Linked DNA regions of Homo sapiens: regions 1, 2, 3 and 4 are each linked to region 5. The links come from fine-mapping of genetic effects on gene expression. A gene starts in region 5. Each other region holds a variant in brackets. All regions are shown on one strand. Distances are between the middles of the regions.

Region 1 (5,107 bases), 380 kb before region 5:
TCCCTATAATGGAGGAGGGAAAACTGAATTATTGATAACATTACAGAGCAATATTTAATGACATGGAAAGATGTTCCATGTGATAAACGGAATGTTGTTTTAAAATGTGTGTGTGTGTGTATGTGTGTGTCTGTGTGCCTGTGTGTACCTGAAGAAATGAGTGAAATCACATACTCTAACATGTTAACAGAGCTTATCTTAGTAATTGACTTTTTTTTCCTTCAGAAATGGTATCTCTCTATGTTGCTCAGGTTTGACTCAAACTCCCATGCTCAAGCCTTAGCCTCCCAAGTACCTGGGACTCCAAGCATGCACCACCATGACCAGCTAGTAGTGGACATTGGGTGGACATTGGATTGATACATATGTAGGTATTTTAATATATATTTAATATATACATATATTTCTTAGCAATTTTTTGTAAAATTTTCTTTTTATAAATTAGAATAAAAAGCAGATTTTTTTTTCTTTTGAGATGGAGTCTCACTCTGTCACCCAGGCTGGAGTGCAGTGGCATGATCTTGGCTCACTGCAACCTCCACCTCCTGGGTTCAAGTGATTCTTCTGCCTCAGCCTCCCGAGTAGCTGGGATTACAGGTGCACACCACCATGCCTGGCTAATTTTTGTATTTTTTTTTTTTTAAGTAGAGATGGGGGTTTCACCATATTGGCCAGGGTGGTCTCAAACTCCTGACCTCAAGTGATCTGCCTGCCTTGGACTCCCAAAGTGCTGGGATTTCAGGTGTGAGCCACTGCACTCTGCCAAAAAGCAGAATTTTAAAAACAAAAAGTTGTTATGTTTTTAAAAAATAATTTTATCTTTTAAAGTTCTATTCCATTAGATTAACTGTCTCCATAAGACATCTATTTCATAATTAACTCTTACAATTTATTTCTTAATTTCAGTTAGCATTTCATTCATAATAATCTCCAGACACAGCCATTTTCAAAAATTAACGCTTTTCCCTTTGGCAATAACCAACACACCCCCATGACGATTGCAGCTCTCAGGTCCTCCGTCCCATCACCCAACTTGGCAAGAACCTGGGGGATGAACACAGAAACTCACACCATGGTGGGAGACAGGACTGCTCTGCAGTTTTCAGGCTGGCATCTTAGCAGCGCATTTTTTGGACTGTTTGAGAGCAATTGCCACAAAGTGAATGTACTCTCTTTTCATAAAGTCCATCAGAGCACCAGGGGTATGAAGTCTTCCACAGAAATGCAAAATACAGAGCTAACCACCGACCGCGAAGCAGAGGAAGTGCAGTCATGTGCTCAGGCTGTAGGTCTCCATGGAGACACCCTTCTGTCTACATCCTTATTTATCATCTGGGTCTCTAGTCACTTCATAACCACAAGAGGAAAAAAGAGCCATGGATTCAACTTGCACTGGCTGCAGAGACAACCATATATACTTTTATATACTCCTTGACTCATACTGTGAGCAGCGCTATCCACTGCTACCGCAAAGTGAGACTAGGAAATCTGAGAAAAGAATGAGACTCACATTTGCCTGCTTGAAAATTGAAAGGCCCTCCATCATCCTTGTCTAGAAAGACTAAGATTCTCTCCCTCATTGCTCCGGTTGCCAGGACTGCCCTCATCCTTTACAGCCCCTCCAACCCTCCAGGGCAGAAACTCCCATGCCCGACACAAGACCATGCCAGACTTCTTAGAGGATTCTTTTTTTTTCTTTTTGAGACAGAGTCTTGCTCTGTCGCCCAGGCTGGAGTGCAGCATTGCCATCTCGGCTCACTGCAACCTCTGCCTCCTGGGTTCAAGCGATTCTCCTGCCTCCCGAGTAGCTGGGACTATAGGCGTATGCCACCACGCCCAGGTAATTTTTGTATTTTTAGTAGAGACAGGGTTTCACCATGTTAGCCAGGCTGGTCTCAAACTCCTGACCTCAGGCAATCCGTCCGCCTTGGCCTCCCAAAGTGCTGGGATTACAGGTGTGAGCCACCATGCCCAGCCAGGATTCATTTTTTAAGTAAGAAGGACATCTATCCATTTTTCTCCCATGTGTGCAATGTAATTTTTTTTTTAATTTTAAGTTCAGGGGTACTTGTGCAAGTTTGTTATAGAGGTAAACCTGTGTCACTGGGGGTTTGTTTTACAGATTATTTTGTCACTCAGGTATTAAGCCTAGTACCCATTAGTTATTTTTCCTGATCCTTTCCCTCCTCTGACCCTCCACCCTCCATTAGGCCCCAGTGAGTGTTATTCCCCTCTATGTGTCCTTGTGTTCTCATCATTTAGCTCCCGCTTGTGAGAAGATGTAGTATTTGGTTTTCTGTTCCTGTGTTAGTTTGCTAAGGATAATGGCCTCCAGCTCCATCCAGGTTCCT[A/G]CAAAGAACATGATCTCATTCTTTTTTATGGCTGCATAGTATTCCATGGTATATATGTACCATATTTTCTTTATCCAGTCTACCATTGATGGGCATTTAGGTTGATTCTGTGTCTTTGCTATTGTGAACAGAGCTGCAATGAAGATACACATGCATGTGTCTTATAACTGAATGATTTATATTCTCTTGGGTATATACCCAGTAGTGAGATTGCTGGGTTGAATGGTATTTCTGTTTTTAGATCTTTGAGGAGTTGCCACACTGTCTTCCACAATGGTTGAACTAATTTATACTCCCACCAATAGTGTATAAGCATTCCCTTTTCTCTGCAACCTTACCAGCATCTGTTATTTTTTTGTACCATGTCACATTTTAAATGTTAAACATCATTTCACTCATAGGAAAAAGAAATACACTGGGGCCAACTAGCTTGAGACAGACCAGCTCTTCCATTGTGCAACTTAACGCCTATCAAAAAATAGCAGAAAAATGGCTTCAGTGTATCTGTTCTGATGGTAGGAGAAATGGACTTGATAATATAAAAGAATCTCTTTAGGCCAGAACCAATTTTACAGATCTTTTTTTACACCTAAGTAATGCCCCACATTTCATTAAGGGTGATGACAATGTTGTCAATGAAGAAGTTGCTTCTCATATAACTATACTGTCATGCAATTAAGTTCTTTTAATTTTTTCCCTCCGAATGTACTTTTATTCTTTGTGGAGCCAATGTTAATAGTTAAAGTAGTACAGTGGCTTACAAAAGTCAGGATAAAAAGTTAAAAAAGAACAAAGTAAACACAGTGTTCCTAAGCCTTTCATATACATTATCTTACAATTGTCAAAAATACTCTGAACATTGTTACTCCTACCTTAGAGGGATGGATCTAGGGTTTTGCTTAGGATGATGTAACTAGTGTGTCATAGGGCTTAGATCTGTGCTCCTGCGTGTTACCTGGGTTACATAAGGTGACTGCAACTCTGAAGCAGAAAAGCCAAGTAACTCTTTCTTCTCATCAGACCCCAAAAGATGGGGCTTGTTACGGAGAGGGTATGAAAAGAGGCTGCTTGCTCAATGTGCCTAAGACCATCTTTATTTGTGCTGTTTTATAATCTGGGTAAAACTAGGAATGTAGAAGCAAACTTAGGTCATAGTGAAGACAGGGAGAAAGGACAGTGCCTGTTACCCAACTGTGTGTATGCTACAATAATGAAGAATACCACCATTTACAATGAGTTAGCACATGAACTTCCTGGAGCTCCAGGGGGAAGCAGAAATGCAAATCCAGCCTGACCCTCAAGATTCTTCAGCAACCCTTCGGTGTTACTTCTTGCTCAACCCAACCTAATATACCACCTCCTCCAGGCCTGTTACAAATGAGAAAATCAAGGCTCAAAGATGAAGTGTTCTCTAAGGTCCCAGAGTTAGCTGGTGGCAGAGGTGGGACTAGAAGCTAGGTCTTTTAACTCCTACCCCTGCCCTCTTTCCAATATGCAAATATCCTGCCTGATATGTATTACAGATGATGGTGACAGAAATCACAATGGCAGCGATCACTGACTGGATGCTTACTCATGGCCAGAGACAGTATTAAGTATTTTTCATGAATGATTTCACATCATCCTCAGAATTTCAAATCCACCAGATAGATGAGGAAACAGAGGCTCAGAAGGATCATGCAACTTCACCAAGACCCTGCTGCAGGTAAGTAACAGAGGTGGGACTCAGCCTAGGTCTCTCTGAAGCTAAAGCTCCAGGTCTATATCAAATTACTTGTCTCTACCCATCAGGTTTGGTGAAAATTACAGTGATTAAATATGAACAGTGGACATATCTGCTTACTGTTGCACTTTATTCCATATACTTTAGTGGCTTTACAGAAATAGATTTCAACAAAAAGCTGACCATTAATCTACCCTTTCCTTCTTCAATGCAAATTCTTAAAGAGTTTCTCAGAAGAGTAAAAAGCCTTATTCAGATAGGCTAAATCTGTTGATTTATGTGTTGAAGGGGAGAAAACTCATTATCCAAGCATAAATAAAATGAGCTAGTTCTTTAAATAATGAAATCAAATAATGAATTCCCAGATTTGGAAATCAAATATGCCAGGTAATACTTAGGTGTCTGGATGCACAGCCTGTTCAGACTGTGATGCGTGTGGGGTGGCCAAGGAGGCTCAGGCAAACCCTTGAGCAGTCATTCTTTATCGCTCTCTCCATTTGTATTTTCAGCACCCTTTTTCTCATCTGTTGATGCTGACAATACAGTTCTTAAGAACTGGCATCTTTCAATTGCTAAGAAGAAAGCTTTGATAACAGATTGCTCAGTTGCTTGTACTTAAAGAAACAGATGACATCTTGGGGTACCTAATGTCACCTTATATAGTAACAATAATATCACCTAATATCACTAATAAAATAGGTTTCTCAAAGTCATCTATACTTCAATTTAGGATAACATCTTGGGGTACCTAATATCATTTAATCTCTCTAGAGTATAGTTGTATTATTAGTAAAGTTAGAGGCAATTTCAGCTCCTTTTTACCTCAAAAATGCTACAGTATTACTACTAATTGGATAAAGGAATTCTAAAACAAATTTTCTTCCATTCCTCTTTTGTTCATATGCTCCTTTTCTGTTGCTCCAGCTCCAGTTATCTCCACTCAATCTCAAACACTTTTTGTACTAGTCCTTGCTTCTATTTTCCATATCAGATGGGTAATGTGTGGACGTTGTAATAAGGCTTGAGGGTGGCA
Region 2 (5,107 bases), 320 kb before region 5:
TCATAAAGGCTACTACTACTAGACCATGAAAATATTCATGTTTTAAGGTAGAGGGGTTGAAAGAAAATGAAAGTATAGCTATTAATCTCATGCATGTTTTCCCAGAAAAATAGTCCTAACTAGACCAAACAGCCAGCTTCATACTGTGAAGTCATGATAAGGTGAGTGGTTAAAGGGCACGGGCTATGCAATAAAATATCAGACAGAGCCCTAATTGTGCTACACATCGCACACAAGGTCCAAAGGTGAGAGGTCTGTTCTGCTTTTAAGATGAATGTTGTTAGTGCCATTCAGTTCACCACTAATGGGTTACATGACAGCAAGGTAAAGATTTATTAGCTACTCATAAAACAGAAAAATTTTTGCACATACCTCATCCTGTAATATATTTGTATATCATTTTTATATGAGCTTCTCATGTGCACCCTTCTATATCTGCACTTACAACCAGCAAACACATGATGCATTGGAGCAAGTATATAAATCACGAGGGGAAATTCCAAGAGTAGAATTTTGATGAATCAGATCCAGTTATTTATTGTATTCATATTTTTTCTTATACAAAATATATGGCTACAAAGATATTTGATGTACAATATAATACTGAAAATATGACATGCACATAGACACAGAAAAGGCATGTAAAGGTGGGTAAAGGATCCAAATTCTATTGTCTAAGGGAATTTTCAGAAACAATGTAAATCAAGTGATGGTATATAATCAAATCATAAGCCCATATGAAGGAGAAGAAAACTTGACTTAAGACATTTCTTTTATATATTGAAGCTGCAAAAGGAAGAACTGAAACAAGGTTTGTTCTTTTTTTTGGTTAGGATATTAGAGGGCCCTCGTGTGGTTACCATTGGTCCCTGCAAATCGGTAAAGTAGAGCAGTTTTTAGTAATTCTTAGTTCAGCCCTTTTTCTCCAGGCACATAAAGTATATAAATCAACTCTCTCAAAAATATCCTAATTTTAAAGAATACTAGTGAGGATTCCATAATCCCATATCCCTGGATGGATATTTTAATGTAATATAGAAAACTTCACTTAAGAAATTCTATCATCTCATACCAGTTAGAATGGCAATCATTAAAAAGTCAGGAGACAATAGGTGCTGGAGAGGATGTGGAGAAATAGGAACACTTTTACACTGTTGGTGGGACTGTAAATTAGCTCAACTATTGTGGAAGACAGTGTGGCGATTCCTCAGGGATCTAGAACTAGAAATACCATTTGACCCAGCCATCCCATTACTGGGTATATACCCAAAGGACTATAAATCATGCTGCTATAAAGACACATGCACACGTATGTTTACTGTGGCACTACTCACAATAGCAAAGACTTGGAACCAATCCAAATGTCCAACAATGATAGACTGGATTAAGAAAACGTGGCACATATATACACCATGGAATACTACGCAGCCATAAAAAATGATGAGTTCATGTCCTTTGTAGGGACATGGGTGAAGCTGGAAACCATCATTCTCAGCAAACTATCACAAGAACAAAAAACCAAACACCGCATATTCTCACTCATAGGTGGGAATTGAACAGTGAGAACACTTGGACACAGGAAGGGGAACATCACACACCGGGGCCTGTTATGGGGTGGGGGGAGGGGGGAGGGATAGCATTAGGAGATATACCTAATGTAAATGATGAGTTAATGGGTGCAGCACACCAACATGGCACATGTATACAAATGTAACAAACCTGCACATTGTGCACGTGTACCCTAGAACTTAAAGTATAATTAAAAAATATATATATATATATATAAAGAAATTCCACATTTAACCAAGTTATATTCATTTCTTCCTGTGAGGCTGAAAATGGGTGTGCAAATGGGCTTATCATCTTCCTGTCTCGAACATTTTAGTACATTATCAACACCCTCTCACCTTCCTCTGAGTCAAAAAATCTTAAATTTCGTCAGTTTTGCCTCATATATCCTACCTTTTTAAATTTGTGATTTAGGCTGTATGTATTTCCAGAGAAGCCCTGTCAACATTCGAAAGCTTTTCAGCCTCTAAATCAAACTCAAAAAAAAAAAAAAGAAAAAATGCTTTAAAAAAATCAGTCAAATTCCTCAAACCATCACATACTAGAAGCTTCTATCAACCAACAGGTCAGTCCCCAAAACGCATGACTCACCTCACCCGCACTGTGGCTGCGTTGCCTTGTCAGGTGTTGCCGATGAACCAGCGCACTTGTGGGTCTACTGCTCTGAAGTGGGAGCCGGGGATCAATGAAAGTGGTGGTGCGGGAGTTGTGGTCCACAAAGAATGCCTAGGATACAATACACTGAGTCAAATACATGCCGCTCACATGTCTTAGCTGACTTATAACATCAGACGGTCAGGAAAAGACT[C/A]ACTTCTGAGTCACAATCTTAGCTCTATTTTCTCATAATTTTCAATCTTTGGGGAAATTTCTCCTTACCCACACAGGACAGATCAGATTAGAGAAAGCCAAGCTTAGATGAGATCCAGAACGAAGAGAGCAGGAAGGAACATTATGCCTGGTTTTAGGAAATGCTCCACGAGATAGTCACCAAAGACATGATCCAAGAAGGAAGCCAGAAGAATGGACATTTAGGCTTCTCTTAACTGATGGTCTTTGAGCTCTTACTGTCATATGTGGTTATTATAAAGTTCTTACCACCTTGAAACTTAAAAAAAAAAATTTTTTTTTTTGAGACGGAGTCTCGCTCTGTCACCCAGGCTGGAGTGCAGTGGCGCGATCTCAGCTCACTGCAAGCTCCACCTCCCAGGTTCATGCCATTCTCCTGCCTCAGCCTCCCGAGTAGCTGGGACTACAGGCGCCCACCACCACGCCCGGCTAATTTTTTGTGTATTTAGTAGAGACGGGGTTTCACTGTGTTAGCCAGGATAGTCTCAATCTCCTGACCTCGTGATCTGCCTGCCTTGGCCTCCCAAAGTGCTGGGATTACAGGCGTGAGCCACCGCGCCTGGCCGAAACTTTTAAACATCATTGACTTCTCTTCTTTCTTCCTTCTCCTATACAGTAAGCCACAAAATCCTTCTCATTTTCTCACTGTAGTGTCCTCTATTTGTCCCCTCCCAGCCTGAACACCACCCCATTATTTTGGGACTTTATTTTATGTGTGTAAGTGCTGGTGGCTTCTCAGCTGCTCCACATCTCTATCACCATAGTCATTTAACTGGCCCGTTACTATAAGAATATTCTTTCTAAACACTTCAATTACATCACCACCCCAATACAAAGCTTCTCATGGCTATCCATTGTCCACAGAAAAGACATTCCCACTCTTTGGTCAGTTTTTCATTACTCTTTAACAGTCTGCCTACATGCCTTTCCAGTTTAGTCGCCCATTACACACCCATACAAACTCATCACATACCGTCTAGAACTTTGGGTAAGTCACTTAAGTTCTCTGAGCTATATGTTTCTTACAAAAACATGTCTCCTTCATTCCTGACATTTCTCCCCCATAATGTGTTAGAAGAATGGAAGCCATGTCTGTCATGATCACTGCAGAATCTCTGATAACATGAAATCATGAATGAGCATAAACCATTTACCTCAGCATTGCAGTAAGATGGACTACAATGTAGCAAAGCATTTTTTGGTCTGTTTGTTTAATTCTAAAACTATACAAGTGCTATCTATCATTATCCTTAGGGGCCCAATGTTGTAAGTTTTCAAAGTAAAATTGACTCAAGGTAATAATGAAACCCATTATCTTAAGTACAATTAGAAATTGTAAGTTTTCCATGATCAGATAGTTAATTAGGTCATCAAAGATGAAAGAGGCTATTAGGAGAGCCAGGAGACTCAGTACCTATAAACCAAGTATCAAGGCACATGATGTATGCCAAATAACAGGCAAAAAAGAACTGACCTTTCAAACCAATGGAGCTCAGTTAACAAAGTACCTTAACACCTAGAGATGAAGGTATCTAGGCAAATGCCAGAGGCAGATAGTATATTTATGCCTATTTAGAAACCTATTTTCCCATTATGGAACAGAATGTTTCATATGGAACTCTATGTACATCATCAAGAAATGGGGCAGGTCCCATATAGAAAACATTTTTACATCTTTATAAAGAAATAACTTTAAGCAATGGATGTACCAGAAAACAAAGCAGAAAAATGGACAGAACAGGAATCTTTCCCAGTCCTTTCTCTTACTATCCAATTCTGGGTACAAAAAAATAAAGGTTTTGTGTGAGATTTTGTCATCAGCCTCACATCCTGGGTAATGTTTCCTCTTCACTAACCTTGAGTGAAACATCCTTCTTCTCAGGTCTTGTAAAAAGTACTCCAGTGATAAAACCTGTGTGGACTTGCATTGACAGGTTCTGACCCCAAATGTCACATTGGTCCCATTTGGTTTGTGCTTCTAATACAATTGTCCACTATTTCTGCCACTACTCAAAATGTCATAAAATAGCAATTAAACTATTTTGCACCAATGGATGTGGCTAATACCTATTTTTAAATAATACATATTAGAACCAAACCCATATCCTCTGTATGTAAATGGAGAGTAACAAGCTTTTATTACTAACACAATCCTATTAACCATCTTGTTTAAGGGAAAAATACAAAGAGCATAAATTAGAATGGCCTATTTACCTAATTTCTTAGGAATGTTTTGAAGGGATGGGTGGTCATTAACGGTACAATGATGCACTTGTAATTATAAAGACAAATGGGTGTCTACATGTAGGTCAACTATGATTTGTATGTAGTGTCATAGCCTAATGTGATGTTAAGAGGCTTGTCTAAAATCCATTCTCAAAAGAACTATACTGCAAAAGCCTTGCAGTAGTGACTGTATCTTAGTCACTCTGTTATCCCCAATAGCTTTTAGGGCTGTGCCTGGGAGAAAGGGTGCTCAGATAAAAACAAATTGGCAAAAACTTGAATTTCCAACCAAAATACAAGGAGACAACTAACAATTAACTAACCAAGTGCTAAAAAGCATGTTCTTGGGCCAGGCGCGATGGCTCACACCTGTAATCCCAGCACTTTGGAAGGCTGAGGTAGGTGGATCGCTTGAGCTCAGAAGTTCAAGGCCAGCCTGGGCAACATGGCAAAACCCTGTCTCTAC
Region 3 (5,107 bases), 34 kb before region 5:
TATTTTACATTTTCTACAATGAAAATTTCTGTTTTGTAAGCAGAGAGAAACCAATAGCAAAAAATTAATAATACTTAACACGATTATAAAATATGTTTATGGCATGCCAAGCACCATATACTAAACACTTCACATATATTATTAATACTTTATTTATTCTGTAAGGTAGATACTAATCCTATGGAATAGGTACCATTATAATCCCCATTTAAAAGATGAATCAATGTAATTTAGTCAAAACAAAAAATATTCTTCATCCAGTAGTTTTCTTAAATCTGATTAAAGTTATTTTTCTAACATTTTCTAAACAGCAACCACTTAAAAGTTAAAAAATAACCAAGGCACTACTTCAATACCTAAAATCAGAGCTTTCAAACTCAGATGGGCTATGGGTTCAGATTCAGAGATAGAGAGAGAAAAGTAATGGAAGAAGTCTACAGTCAAATATTCACAGGTAGAACACTAATAAGTTAGGATTTTGTGCCACACCTCCTGGTTTCCTGATATAAGCAGAGTTGTGAATTTGGAGAGCTTTACATCAAACTCTACACCCTTTATAATTATAAAGAAAAATGTCCTTTCCAGGATACTATATGAGCATGAGCATACTTTTTGAAACAAAATGTTGCATTTCATAGCCTTCTTCATAGAAAACAACACCAGGTACTGCAACCATTTGAACGTGATTAATTCACCAAAGCTCTTTTTACCACTTGCTATTGTTTTAAGCACGTAGTCCCTTTTCCTTGATTCTAGCTGACATGTTGGCGTATCCCTTGTGTAAAATGGAATATTCTCAGCTTTCTGGACATGTAATCCCTGCTGGCTCTGATCCAGCTGATGAATCTGCCAGGTTGACAGCATTGTGCCTTTGAAGGCCTGTGTCTGCCACAGCAGCAATAACAGAAGATGATGCTTACCTGGCAAAGAATCACTTGAAAATACATTTGATGGGCAAAACTATCAGAAGCTACTTAAATCCTTACTTAGTTTAGCTGGGGCAGGCATTTAAAAAAACCTGTATGGAATTGTTTAATATACCAAATGGATTAGTAATGTGAACTTACCATTCAATGGGCACCTACTCTATGCCAGGCACTATATTAGGCTCTTAATACATCATCTCATTAGAGTCTCACAACAACCCAGGGAGATAGAAATTAACCCTATTTTTACAATTATGGAACTCAAAAATCAGAGACTAAATAACTGCTACTAGGTTGCAGAACTAATAAGCAGGAGAGCTGGGATTCAAACCACATCTACCTAATTAGAAACACAATGTTCTTTTCACTACACCATACTGATGCCCTCTGCCAGCTCACAACACCCACAGTTCCCATTAGACCCTCCCACCTGAGTGAGCCAGTAAGATGCACCTGCAATCTGACATTGGCTTAAAGTATTTTCTTCAACAGCACATACACCAGCCCATCAGAGTCCTACCTGACATGTCCACCCTTCAGAAACACGTGGGGATGTCTCAGCTAAAGGGAGGAGGTTCAATTCCTTCATCACCCCCAATATAAGTAAGACATCTAAGAAAGCTAGGAAACCCTGATATATATCAAGCTGCCATCAACATTATTGAAGCTAACGTTGGGCTAATGTGAGACAGCAACATCTGGAGTCCAGTTGATTACTGCTCATAGGGTTATGCGACAAGCCTGCAGTGTCATGGAACAGACGAGGCTCTACTGTGCTTAAGGAGCTCTAACAAAGTTAGGATGCAAACAACAGAGGCATGGCCCCAGCTAAAGCCTTTTTTCTTGGAGTTTTCTCTTCATGCTGAATTATAACTTCGACAATTTAGCCACCTTTAGAAAGAATACAGAAAGCAGAAAAAGGGGGAAAGGTTTTGAGCACTCTGGCTTATGGCTAGTAAAATGACTACAAAAATCATTTTTTGAAAATAATAGTCATTGTATTTGCATACATCTTAAATCTCACAAGGTACAGTGTGGGAAGGTCAATATTAAACAATTGTATTGAGCCAACAATGTACAATAAATATCTGAATTCCTTTCACTCTAAAAGGATTTTCCTAATTATGCTATTTAGTATCTGCAGGTACTTCACAAGATGAGTCTTTATCTCTCTACCAGTTCACTTGCAGAGAGGGACGGTCCCATGAAAATGATTTCCAGAGCTTCTCAAACCTAATTTGTATATGAATCACCTGGAGATGGTGTCAAAATGCAGATTTTGATTCAACAGGGCTGGATTAGGGCCTGAGAGTCTGTATTTCTATGAAGCACCCTGATGATGTTGCTGCTGCAGGGACCACCCTTTAACAGCAAAGGTCTCACTCTTGTTGCCCAGGTTGGAGTGCAATGGCGCGATCTCGGCTCACTGCAACCTCCACCTCCCAGGTTCAAGTGATTCTCCTGCCTCAGCCTCCCAAGTAGCTGGGATTACAGGTACCCATCACCATGCCCAGCTAATTTTTGTATTTTTAGTAGAGACGGGGTTTCACCATGTTAGCCAGGCTGGTCTCAAACTCCTGACCTCAGGTGATCTGCCCACCTCGGGCCTCCCAAAGTGCTGGGATTACGGGCCTGAGCCACTGTGCCCAGCCTTAACCACTGTTTCTTATCTGAGATCTTCATATGCCCGCACTCCCTGTCCCTGTCCCAGGGAACTGAGCTTTAAAAAAAATCTTAATTGCATGTTCATTTTTTTGGATAATCTAAAAGATATATATTTTACCAGTTCAGTGACTTCTCATTTACAGAAATAATTGATACAATGTGTCCAGAAAATCAGTTTCTCAAGTCAGCTTTTCTCAAAGTGGACTCTGCAGACATTTCCTTGGTAGATCCACACAAATAATTTTCCCACAAAAAAGTCCATACTGTTGCGGGAAGTCAGGGACCGCGAAC[G/A]GAGAGACTTGCTGAAGCCGTGACAGAAGAACATAAATTGTGAAGATTTCATGGACATTTATCACTTCCCCAATCAATACTCTTATAATTTCCTATGCTTGTCTTTACTTTAATCTCTTAATCCTGTCATCTTCGTAAGCTGAGGATGTATGTCGCCTCAGGACCCTGTGATGATTGCATTAACTGCCCAAATTGTTTGTAAAGCATGTGTGTTTGAACAATATGAAACCTGGGCACCTTGAAAAAAGAATAGGATAACAGCGATGTTCAGGGAACAAGGGAGATAACCATTAGGTCTGACTGCCTGGGAGCCAGGCAGGACAGAGCCACATTTCTCTTATTACCAAAAACGGGTAAGAGAAATATCGCTGAATTCTTTCCCCAGTAAGGAATATTAATAATTAACAGCCTTGGGAAAAGAATGCATTCCCAGAGGAGGCCTCTAAAATGGCCACTCTGGGGGTGTCTGCCTTATGCAGCTGCAGATAAGGGATAAAACACGCCCTGGCCTCCTGCAGTGCCGCCAGGCTTGCTAGGATTAGGAAATTCCAGCCTGGCAAATTCTAGTCAGATGTGCTCTCTGCTCTTGAACCCTGTTAAGATGTTTATCAATGACAATGCGTGCACAGTGGGACATGGAACTTCATTAGTAATTCTAGTTTTGCCCTGACCTTGTGATCCCGCCCTGACCTTCTGCCTTGTGATCTTTTGTTGCCCTTGAAGCATGTGATCTTTGTGACCCACACCCTATTCGTACACTCCCTCCTCTTTGAAAATTGCTAATAAAAACTTGCTGTTTTTTACGGCTCAGGAGGCATCATGGAACCTGCTGACATGTGATGTCTCCCCCGGCCACCTAGCTTTAAAATTTTTCTCTTTTGTACTCTTTCCCTTTATTTCTCAGACCGGCCGGCACTTAGGGAAAATAGAAAAGAACCTATGTTGAAATATCAGGGGCTGGTTCCCCTAATACATACAATGACTTCTTAGTTAGAGATTTGCCTTACCCAGCAGCACAGGCAACATCCAGCTACAGGGAAAGAACTGATGTCTTGGGATGGGCAAAGATTAGGAGGAAAGGTAGATTCTGAGACTCACAGAGCCTGATGTCCTACCCTGCACACCTCTAAAATAGTTTACCAAATAAGTGGTCTGTGAGAACTTAGAGGCAATGAAAAGAGGCAATCAGTAGAAAACAGCAGGGTTTCACTAAGAATAAGTTATGCCAAACACGTTATTTCCTTTTGACATGGTTAGGAGAATGGTGGGTATGACAACGCTTTAGACAGCATATTTAGATGTCGGCATGGTATGAAGTCTCTTAAAACACTCTTGTAGCCAAGAATAGAGACATGCAGCCTAAATAATGATACGCTGAATAGATTTGCAGGTGGTTAAGCAGAATATCCAAAGACAATGAATTGGTGGAATAAATGTCAGTCTAGTAAAAGACTCCTTCATAGTTCCTTCCCTTTCCCAGCTTTAAACCCTCCCACCCTCCAACCAAGTTAGAAACAATAGCACAAGTGATACATACTAAATTTCTTACATGTACTTTAAATGTATAAAGAAGTAAAACCACTTATACCAGAATTTTACAAAGGAGGAATTCAGTATACTTTACAGCACATTCTTTTGACAATATTTAAAATTTAATGATATTCTCCCTGTATGAGTTATTTATTTAAACTGTTTTCAATGGCATTTTCAGTAGCTAAAGCTGAAAGAGGGCTTGGAAATATAAAAGACAGGTAAAGTGGATACAGAGAAGCAATTTAGATATTGTCCAATTAAAATGTGGGAAAGATAATGGAAAATGAGCACAAGTAAACCCCAGCCTTATCACTGCATTTCCAAAATATACAAGAAGCAGGAGGGACAGAGCAGAAATACATGTAAGGCGGGCTGTCCCAAAGTATTTCTCCATCTTAGGCATCCATTCACAGAGGTTCCCAGGAGGCAGCACTCAGAATTTTTTATTCGAATCACAAATCAGAAAAGTACCAGCTTTGGCCAGGGTTGGTGGCTCACATCTGTAATCCCAGCACTTTGGTAGGCTGAGGCAGAAGGATCACTTGAGCCCAGGAGTTCAAGACTAGCCTCAGCAATATAGCAAGACCCTGTCTCTACAAAAAATTAAAAAATTAGCCAGGTGTGGTGAGGCACACCTGTAGTCCCAGCTGCTTGGAGGCCAAGGTGGAAGGATAGCTTGAGCCTGGGAGGTT
Region 4 (5,107 bases), 350 kb before region 5:
GAACACAGCAGCAACAGCTGGCATGAGCACTGCATGTGTGTTCAGAAGACACCAAGAGAACCAAGCTAGCCTAGAGTGGAGGAGGAGTGCTGGGAGTAAATGGGAAATGAAATTGATCAGAAGGGTTGGAGCCAAATTATGACAAGAATTTTTAAAACCTAGCAGAGGAGTTTGGGCATGATGCAGTGAACAGTGCCTTTATAGGTTCTTGAGCAGAAGAATAACATACAAATGGTGTTTTATTTAAGAAATTATTTTCAGAGTGTGTTGAGTAAATTAAGGGTGGGCAAGAGGAAAGAGCCCCAGTTAGGAGTTGTTGCAGTAATTGAAGCCTGAGGGGATAAGGACTAGACTGGAGTGAGTGACTCAGAGAAACATCTACAATGTGAAATATGCACTGGGAAAAGAATAGATAAGCAAGAAAGAAGAATGGGAAGCATGATGATAATATAAAGTGTATTTAAACAATAACAACAGGTCTTACTTGTTAAGCGCCTGCTGTACATTACAGATGATGCACGTTACACAGGGGATCTTGAGAAATCCTCACAAGTCTACGAAGCGGGTATTACTAGGACCATCACACACCACTTTGCAACTAAAGAAAATGAAGGTGCAGTTTCCTGTCCAAGTCATATTCCAGTGACAGTAGATTTGGGATTTGAGCCAAGTCTATCTACCTGATGCTATGAAGAGTGTGGGAAGTGATGCAGGTGGACAAGGGCATGTGAAACTTTATACATATTGACTTGGATATGACAGCTAACAAAATGCCCTAGAGACTGAAAAATACAGGGCTGGAATTGGGGTGAGAGCTCAGGGCCACACGTGTGGATGAGCTGAGTTAGTGTGTTTATGGCACTTTATGCAGTGACTGTTGCATAAGAGATCCCACGTAAGTGTTAGCTGTTGTTATCTGCATAGAGGTGAATACTAAAGACAGGGAAATGAATTGAGATTTTACTAATGAATTTGTACAAAACTGGCTATTGACCAATAATCTGTCTGGAGATCTGTTTGTATAGCTGGGCAAAGAGCTGAGTTATGTCATAAAGCAAGTGAATAAACTTGACTTTAAAGATCTGGGAAGCAGAAGAGACTCCTAGGCAGGGGTTCTCAATCTTGACTGCACATTAGAATCACTTAGGAAGCTTTTAAAAATTCCAATGTTCAGGCCACACCCAAGATGCATTACAACAAAATGTGTAAAGACCCAGAATGTGGGGTGGGACCCAGGCATGAGTGTTAAATACAACTGTCCAGATGATTCCAATGTGTAATGTGTAGCTATGGCTGAGAACCACTATTCCCTTATAAGAAGGTCAAACATCACCAGTGAAACACATGGGCAGCATCCAGGGACTAACACAGGGCAAATGTTTCCTGTGTACCGAAAGGCATAATTTGCAACACGAAGGAACATTATCTCCATGAACACAAGGCTGCTCTCCTAGATGAATGAGGGATAGGACCGTGCAGTTCAAGTCCACTCAAGGGTGGCACAATCAGTGTCAGTGCTCCAGTCTGAGAAACTGCAGACTAGAAAACCCAGACAGGGCAGAACGCAGCTGTAATGAATCAACTTTCAAGAGCAAAATCATTGATAAGAGAGAGAAAAATGAAGAACAAGGAACTGAACGAAAATCTTTTAAGACACAAAAGAAACTTTTTTTTTTTCTTTAGACGGAGTCTCACTCTGTCGCCCAGGCTGGAGTGCAGTGGCACGATCTCGGGCACTGCAAGCTCCACCTCCCGGGTTCATGCCATTCTCCTGCCTCAGCCTCCTGAGTAGCTTGGACTACAGGCGTCTGCCACCACGCCCGGCTAATTATTTTTTTGTATTTTTTTAGTAGAGACGGGGTTTCACCATGTTAGCCAGGATGATCTCGATCTCCTGACCTTGTGATCCACCCCCCTCAGCCTCCCAAAGTGGTGGGATTACAGGCATGAGCCACTGTGCCCTGCCAAGAAACATGTTTTTTTAAGAGCTGATTACTTTAAAAAACAGCACAGACACTAACTACTCCTATATAATTTGAGATGCTTAAAAGGACGTGGGAAATGCCATAATGCATTCCATCAATATCAATACAGACACAATAAAAATTAGCTCTGATTCTGTTTATACTCTAGGTAAAGGGATTTAATTATAAAAACTCTGAGACAGCAATTGTTAAATGCAAAAATTCTTTTGCTCATAGTTCCATCATGAAAGAAGTCATTTACACATTATTTCATTTTAAAATTATAGTAAATTGGCTGGGTACGGTGGCTCACGCCTGTAATCCCATCACTTTGGGAGGCTGAGGTCGGTGGATCATGAGGTCAGGAGATCGAGACCATCCTGGCCAACATGGTGAAACCCCGT[C/A]TCTACTAAAAACACAAAAATTAGCTGGGTGTGCTTGTAGTCCCAGCTACTTGGGGGGCTGAGGCAGGAGAATCACTTGAACCCAGGAGGCGGAGGTTGCAGCGAGCCGACATCGCACCACTGCACTCCAGCCTGGCAACAGAGTGAGGCTCTGTCTCAAAATAAATAAATAAATAAATAAAATTACAGTAAATTATGCTGTTGGCCTTTGTCAAATTCTTAATACAAGTGAGGTATAATTGCCAAGAAATTCCAGAGCAGGAATGATGTTACTTCCACTTTGGAAATACAAAATGTTCTTGGAAGATTGCGCTAATAAAATTGTGTGAGAACTACAAGTGAAGTTCTAGGTCATAATACTTTGTAGACAGAGGAATTTTATGGTCTTTACAGTCTTAAAGAAAATCAGGTACAAAAGATCAATGTTACATCAAATGAAGGGCTGACTTCATGGATAGTCAGCATTTTGCTAATACTGTGCAGGAAAAAATTTCAGTAACAGACACTAGGGAGTTTTTGCTTTGTCATTGCTAGGCAGGTCTAAAGAACTTCTATATTGTGTTACCCTATTTTCATATACTGTTACAAAATTGCATAATCATATACAAACTAAAGAATTCTATCTGACAAAATATTTCAGAAGACACTAGAAATAGCTTGGCATCCAACTCCCGGGCAGTCTCAGTCTTTTTTGATTCTGGGTGTGTGACCCAGAACCTGGACTGTTCTGATGACTAGCACTGGTTCTCCGTATTGGACAGGGGCTGGATCTTAGCCTGATCCAGCATGGCTCCATGCCTCTGTCCTGGGACAGCTCAGACGCTCATCTCTTTCCTGGTTCACTTTCAAAAAATCCCTATGACATTTAAAACAAATGCCCTGTGAGTGAATGAAAACAAAACATCAAGCACTACAATAATTTCTGGAAGGCTCCATCTTCTGGAACATAGCTCAACGCTGGAACTTAACAAAAAACACGTCCAAATCCCTGGCACAAAGCACAAGCACTGAAAACCTGGCATTTTTGCTTTATTCTCTGAGTAGTAAAAGGCCCTCGAGTCATTTCTTGGAGCTTGCTGATGTTCATGTACATACCATTTATTGAAAATAACTTAATGCTCTGACTTCTCAAACCTTGACAGAGATCTTGGCAGGGAAGTGATTTATTAAAGGGAAATGTAAAGGGTCTGCCAATAGCAGGCACCCTCTGATAGCTCTATGGGTGAGGACAAGGGAGACTAACAACACAAAAAGTTAAGTCTCTATACTATGAGAGAGACAGTGTCTGTGGCTTTCTTTTGGTCTCTGGGATCACAACTTCCCCATCCCTACCCACCCAGGGAGCATCCTTCATTTGTGCAATTTGGTTCCTAGATCATCTTTGTAGGGCTGAGTCAAGGGAAGGGATCAAACACCTTTTCTAAAAACAACTCTAAAGCTACTTCAGGGACTGTAGGAAAGGTGGGGAAAGGGAGAGGGACAGATGAGAGAGAGAGAGACAGACAGACACACACACACACACACACACACACACACACACAGAGAGAGACAGAGAGGAATAGAGAGGGAGGAAGGAAGAAAAGGAGAGAGAGAATGAGCAGAGAAGAGGAACTGTTTGTGAAAAGAGAAGATGACATAAACAGCTGGTAAAATGCTAAGACTTTGTGGTGGGAGAAAGAAAACGAAGATCATTAAGGGCACACAATGTGGTGGGAGAAATAATTCCCTCTCACAACCCATCCCCTCAAGACAATCTTTAGTAAAGACCCACAGGGCTCTTCTGTGCTCTCTGAGTGTTTTACTTCTGTTGAAGGTGACTTTCTGCTGGTGCTAGTTTCCAGGGAGTCCAGCTCTAGTCAAGTAACAAGAGCTCTGCATCATGATTCATAGGCACAATGATCCCCCCAAACCATGAAATATCCTCAATGTGCAGTGTATAGGAAAGTAAAGAGAAATATAATATATTTATGAAAGAGTTTCAGCAAATAGGGGGTCAAACAAATTCTCATACAGTTAAAATCATAGCTTTGGTTACCTGGAAAATCCACATAAGAGAGCACATCTCCAATAATATCAGATAAATTAGGTGTTATTGCATTTAATTTCCTAGAAATGTGCAGCTTAAATAAACTTCTGGGTCCCATATTTGGCATAATAAGCCACATGGTGTTTGGAAAGATCTTTTCCTTCTGGCATCACTGAGGTTGGGATTGGCATTATAATGGTCCTAGAAAAACAAACCTTCACATTCCAAAATTTTGACAAATTTTGGTGAGCACTCTAACAGCTGCAAAAAGCAGTGAGTCAAAGTTTCCAAAGCCCCTCTCTCTTCTGCACTTGAAAATACATGTCAACGTGCTTGGAATGAGGAAAAGGGGGAAAGTTTACCAGGTTCCTAGGAATTCTCAATGAAGATCATTAAAATTTATTACTGTCATAATTTTCAAGATATTATTCTCACACCACTAAAAGGGGTGAAATTATAGTCACAAGGAGGATCAGACCACTTAAAAAAATCTGTTTGAAATGTTGCTTTCACAAAACCTTCAGGAATCCTGGTAGAAGGAGAAGCTATTTTATTCAAAGGAACAGAAGATTCCTCCAGAGGGGAAATGAGGTTAGGTAGTCCTGCCCTGGTATCATGTGGAATTTGTTATAGTGACTTCCATTGATATCAGGCTGTACAACCCAGTTTCAAGATCAAACAAAGCCCACTGAAACAGAGTAGGCCAGAAATAT
Region 5 (5,107 bases):
AAATGTCTTTGCCACCCTCCACCCCACCCTACCCCACCTCTAATAGTGAAGTGGATAATTTCTGAAGAATACAATGACCCTTTATGCCTGGCTTCTCTAGTCTGCTAGGGATGCCATCTGTCTCCCACGCTATATAAACAATCCCCGCAGGAATCTTCTGATGACCAAACAGATTAGCAAACTCCAGATTTTCACGCCATTAATAATATCCCCATCCAGATTAGGCCTTTTATTTTAATAACTCCAAAGATAAAGTCAATAACTGATCTTTCTTTCTTTGTAGATAATGTGTGTGTCATTTTAAAGATAACCTCTTGGAACATACAGCCATCTGTTGGGAAGAGAAAGAAAAAAAGCTCTCTCAAAGCAACAGAAGAAATGAACCCTCGAGGGAATAGGAGAAATAGTAAAAAGAAAATCATATTTATAAGACAAACACATGGAGAGCTCTACTAATTACACTAAAATATTCTTCTTCTAAATGACAAACTATAGAACACTACTCCAGAAAAGACAAGTTTCACACTTTCACAAAGGTATATATATACGAAAACAGTTTGCGTGAGTCTAGGACAGTGAAAGCAGAAATCATAACCCAAAAGCTAAAGGCCCCCGAAGTTTGCATGCTGTCCACCTCTATCTGTAATGATCACAAATGTTTTCCTTCCTGAAGTTTAATATCGATTGAACCCTTGTAACTCTAATTGTGAGCTCTCTGTACTGACTCCAAAGACTTCTAACTCTAAAAGAAATGTGCCTGTAAAGATGTTCTCTAAATTAATAATAATAAACGACGAAAAGCACCCGAGCGCTGCTAATAGTGAAGACAAGGCATGAGAGAGTCAGACCTCTGCAGTCTCGCGTCCTCGGAAACGTCTACGTCTAAATCTGCAGCCCCAGTTTGCTCCAGGCCCCAAGCTCCAGCAGAGGATGTTCACGGCACATTCCCAACCAAAAAGGAAATGAAGCGTCCTCTCCCTCAACTGATGCTCAAATAGACCCCAAAGTCCCAGTTTCCCTGGAGAACCAAACCATCCAACACATCCTGGGCAGCGGAAACCGAAATGGCAAATGAATGACCGCGCCGGGGCGCAAGGGAGGAAAAACAAAGCCACCTCCCGCCGTCCGCTACCTGCGGCGAGGGCCGCGCGCTCACCTGGGCTTTGCGCCCGTCGCCACAAGCTGCGGGTGGGGACCCGGCCGCGGGGCGGGAGGGCGCCCCCAAAGTCGCCCGGACCCGCGGCCCCGGCGCCCTGCGGCCGGTCCGTGCGCGCCGAGGAGAAAGCAGGCGGCCGGGGGCGCCGCCGCGCGTTGCATGCAGCTCACGGCTGCTGCGGCCGCTGCCACGGAGCCGAGAGTCTCTGCGCTGCAGTCCCCGACCCCGAGACCGCGAGAAGCGCCCGGAGAGACGCGGCGCAGGGGCAGAGCGCGCTCGGCGCGCCCCTCAGCGGCTCTTCCCGCCGCCCTCCGCAGCGGGCTGGGTCTCGGCTCGCCTTTGTGCTGGCATCTTCCTAGCTCCCAGCGACACCCAGAGCTCTCGAGGCGGCTCCGCGCCGCCACCCACCCCCGGGTTACGCCACGGCCCCCGCGCGACCCGCCGATTGTGTCGAGTCAGCAGCGGCAGCGGGGACGCGCGAAGCCATGGCTCCCGCCCGCGCTCGGGAGGGCGCCGGGGGTCCTGCGCCTCCGGGAGGTTTGTGGCCGAGCGCGGCGCGGCCCCGAGCGGCCCCGCAGCGCCCGGCTCCCCGCCGCTCGCTCTCCAGGCGCCGACCCGCCTGCGTCGCCACCCTCTCGCCGCTCCCTGCCGCCACCTTCCTCCCGCCCGGGTGCCGGGCGTCCGCTCCAGCCGCGGTGCCCCGGTCCGCGGAGAGCGAAGAGTCCGGCCTCCTCACCTCCAGCCGCGCCGGCGCCCTTCCCGCTAGACGCTTCGGCGGCATCTGCCCGCACCGCCCTGCGGGACGCTGGGCTGGGAGCTGGCGGCACGTCGGGGACCGGTGGAAGGGAGGCGGGGGCAGAGGACAGGAGGGACAGCCAGACCTTGGCCAGCGGGACCTCCCTGAGGAAGGTGCGGAAGAACGGGGCGGGTGCGGCTGGGCGGAGGACGAGTCCCGAGGCTGCGGCGGAGCCTGAGTTGCTCTCCTTCTGCGAAGTCGAAGGACAGGAGGATTCCTAGAGGTGTCGCGGAGGGTGGAGGAGACCCTCTGAGGTCGTGCAGACAACACTGTTCCTCAACCCCACCAGAAAGCTGAATAGGGGAGTGTCATGCCTCGGTTTCCCCAACTGCAAGGGCAAGACGGTAATACTCATGTCGCACACACAGGGTGTGGTCACGATGAAAAAATGGATTATTGAAAGCGTTCCCAGATACTTTGCCTAAAGAGGGCACTAAAATTTAAAATTACTGTATTAATACTTTCGGCTTTCTGTTTACTTCTATAGCATCTTCATCAACCAGTCCCACGTAGGAGAAAAAGTAAAAATGCTAAAGTGTAAATATATTGTGTCCCTCCCCACCCACCCTTGCATCTGTCCAGATTTAGGGAAGATTTATTCAATTTTACAATTTAACTATATCCATATGGAGTAAGTCCCCAAATAATGGATAGCCATTCCTTTGGGACTTTTGAGTGTGTGCTCAATATTATCCATTTCTCCGCCTTTTCTGGTAACAGCAGTTCATTATTCCTATGGGAACTGCCCTTCCCCCTCACCCACAATGAGTCTTTGTGGCTCCAGGGTACTGACACCTCCCACCCTCAACCCCCAGAACTAGCCAGTCATCTTCCGGACCGCAGTGATCGGTTCTGGGTTGGGCATGTTGATCCAGGAACTCGGCCTAGGGCTTTGGATGTATTACTGCAGAAAAATAAGCTCTTTAAACTAGGATAACTAAATTGGAAGGATATAAGCCTACGGTAACAAGGACCAACAGTGCATGCCAATGAAGCCAACTTTGAGGGAAGAAAAGCTGCTGGTGAGAGGGTGATGTCCCACCCTCTCAGGAACCTCAGGAGGTAGATGTGTCTGCAGTGAACTCTACCCTTGAAGCCAATAAATCCTCTCTCTTTTATTTCAAGTCAGTGTCAGCTGTGTTTTGTCACATGTCTCAGAGGAGCCCTGACTTCTTAGTCCCCTGGATCTATCAGCCCAGGCATCACTGTTAGGATCCTCCACAGAATCAAAGAGCCCCACCCCACAAAAGGCCCAATTCCAGTTCTTGCTGGAAGAACAGGGATCCTAGAGGTTTGTTCCCACATGATGTTCTCCTTCACAACTTACTCAAATCCAGCAACCCCACACCTGCAATCCTTAGCTTCTTTGTGTTGATTAACCACTATGTTACATTCTAGTCAAAATGGGCCAGGTGCAGTGGCTCACACCTGTAATCATGCCTGAGGCAGGAGGATCTCTTGAAGCCAGGAGTTTAAGACCAATCTGGGCAACATAGTGAGACCCCACTAACACAGGAACAGAAAACCAAACACTGCGTTTTCTCACTCATAAGTGGGAGCTGAACAATGAGAACACATGAACACAGGGAGGAGAACATCACATCAGGGAGGAGGGGCCTATCGGGGGTTGTGGGGCTAGGGGAGGGATCTCATTAGGAGAAATACCTAATGTAGATGATGGGTTGATGGGTGCAGCAAACCACCATGGCACGTGTATACCTATGTAACAAACCTCCACGTTCTGCACATATATCCCAGAACTTAAAGTATAATACATTAAATAAAGAAAGAAATAAAAATAAAAATAGCCAGGCATGGTGGCCTGAACCTGTAATCGCAGTTACTCTGGAGGCTGAGGCAGGAAGATCAGTTGAGCCCAGGATTTCAAGACTGCAATGAGCTGTGATTGCACCACTGCACTCCAGCTTGAAGACAGAGCAAGACCCTGTCACCTTGTCAAAAAAGAAGAGGAAGAGGAAGAAGAAGGAGGAGGAGGAGGAAAAAGAAAGAAAGAAAAGAAAAACAGAAAAAGAAAGAAAAGAAAAGAGGAGGAAGGGAGGAAGGGAGGAAAGGAGGGAGAAAGAAGAACCCTAAAAATGAATAGAGGCAAAGTGAATCACTATTGCTGCCCTAGGTCTTAAAAAACATTTTTCTCTCACTTTAAAAGCAGCCCCTACTACCTTTAAAACTTTCTACATATCGACCATTAAAACCGAGACTAAGGCATCAAAGAACATTAATAGCAAAGTCATCCTAAAAATCTCAAACTTGCAAAGGTGTGTAAAGATTAGGTAGGTTCTTTCACACTGCACTCCCCGTTCGTCATCACCACCACTCTCCTTCACAAGATCTCTGACCGGGTCTCACTTATCCTCTCCTGGAGCCATTCCCTTAAAGAGAACTCAGTACTTTACAAGCTGGTCAATTCTGCATTGAAACTGGCCTGACATTAGGAAGTGATCCCTTATATTGAGTTGAAATATTTCTTCCACCTGAGAGTACTCCAAGCACTGAAGACAAACTTGTGAACCACTTGAATTGTCTCTTTTCCAAGATCTTTGCATGACCCATAAGTCATGCAGGACACATGGCAATGTGTCCTGACCCTTCATCATCCTAGGTTACTTCCTTTCTACAGATGTGCCAAGGTTTGTGACTGCTCCTTCTAAAGCATATGGCCAAAGCTAAACCCAAAGGCAGATTCCAAGAAACTTATACTCCAGCCCTCTTCCAACAACACAGAAGGAGCCTGAGAGACATGTTCATGTGGTCTTATATTTTTATAAAAGCTTCCAAAGTAAGATATTTTAATCTCAAGCGATTTGCAGTGGACTGAATGTTTGTGCTCCCCCAAATTCATGTGTTGAAATCCTAACCCCTAATGTGATGGTATTAGGAGGTGGGGCCTTTGGGAGGTGATGGAATAAATGCCCTTATAAAAGAAACCCAAGAGAGCTCTCTCACCCTCTTTCTGCCTCTTGAGGATACAAAGAAAAGATGGCAGTCTGCAACTGGAAGAGGGCCTTCCCACCCACATCACAACCACACTGGCACCCTGATCTCATTCTTCTGGCGTCCAGAACTGTGAAAAATAAATTTCTGTTGTTCATAAGCCACCCAGTCTAGGATGCTTTGTTATTGCAGCTTGAATTAAG

Alleles and levels. Positions count from the first base shown, and alleles are read on the strand shown. Sizes are in standard deviations (SD) of each study's normalised expression. Not every link is listed here.
As copies of A replace C in region 2, the expression in monocytes after LPS of the gene that starts at base 1,939 in region 5 goes down (large effect, 0.86 SD a copy in Quach 2016).
As copies of G replace A in region 3, the expression in coronary artery of the gene that starts at base 1,939 in region 5 goes down (large effect, 1.5 SD a copy in GTEx).

Evidence for each region.
Region 1: its variant is fine-mapped to the expression of HECW2 in whole blood (TOPMed, PIP 0.98).
Region 2: its variant is fine-mapped to the expression of HECW2 in monocytes after LPS (Quach 2016, PIP 0.95). The same link has a PIP of 0.9 or more in monocytes after Pam3CSK4 and monocytes after R848.
Region 3: its variant is fine-mapped to the expression of HECW2 in coronary artery (GTEx, PIP 0.99).
Region 4: its variant is fine-mapped to the expression of HECW2 in whole blood (TOPMed, PIP above 0.99).

What each region holds. Positions count from the first base shown.
Region 1 is chr2:196,210,160-196,215,266 of GRCh38, forward strand. All of the region lies in intron 28 of HECW2 (HECT, C2 and WW domain containing E3 ubiquitin protein ligase 2), which reads right to left. LOC124906154 (small nucleolar RNA U13) reads right to left here; the gene lies at 5,060-5,107. Among named protein-coding and RNA genes, the nearest start is that of STK17B, 41 kb to the left of the region's middle. RefSeq lists an enhancer at 1,567-1,616. The variant A/G (reference allele first, on the strand shown) is at 2,352.
Region 2 is chr2:196,276,368-196,281,474 of GRCh38, forward strand. It overlaps HECW2 (HECT, C2 and WW domain containing E3 ubiquitin protein ligase 2), which reads right to left. Exons shown (of 29, transcript NM_001348768.2): 15 at 2,161-2,295. Among named protein-coding and RNA genes, the nearest start is that of HECW2-AS1, 19 kb to the left of the region's middle. The variant C/A (reference allele first, on the strand shown) is at 2,378.
Region 3 is chr2:196,557,869-196,562,975 of GRCh38, forward strand. The region is part of intron 1 of HECW2 (HECT, C2 and WW domain containing E3 ubiquitin protein ligase 2); the gene reads right to left. Among named protein-coding and RNA genes, the nearest start is that of HECW2, 33 kb to the right of the region's middle. The variant G/A (reference allele first, on the strand shown) is at 2,883.
Region 4 is chr2:196,244,724-196,249,830 of GRCh38, forward strand. The region is part of intron 19 of HECW2 (HECT, C2 and WW domain containing E3 ubiquitin protein ligase 2); the gene reads right to left. Among named protein-coding and RNA genes, the nearest start is that of HECW2-AS1, 13 kb to the right of the region's middle. The variant C/A (reference allele first, on the strand shown) is at 2,369.
Region 5 is chr2:196,591,616-196,596,722 of GRCh38, forward strand. It overlaps HECW2 (HECT, C2 and WW domain containing E3 ubiquitin protein ligase 2), which reads right to left and starts at 1,939. Exons shown (of 29, transcript NM_001348768.2): 1 at 1,893-1,939. RefSeq lists silencers at 1,168-1,547, 1,628-1,897.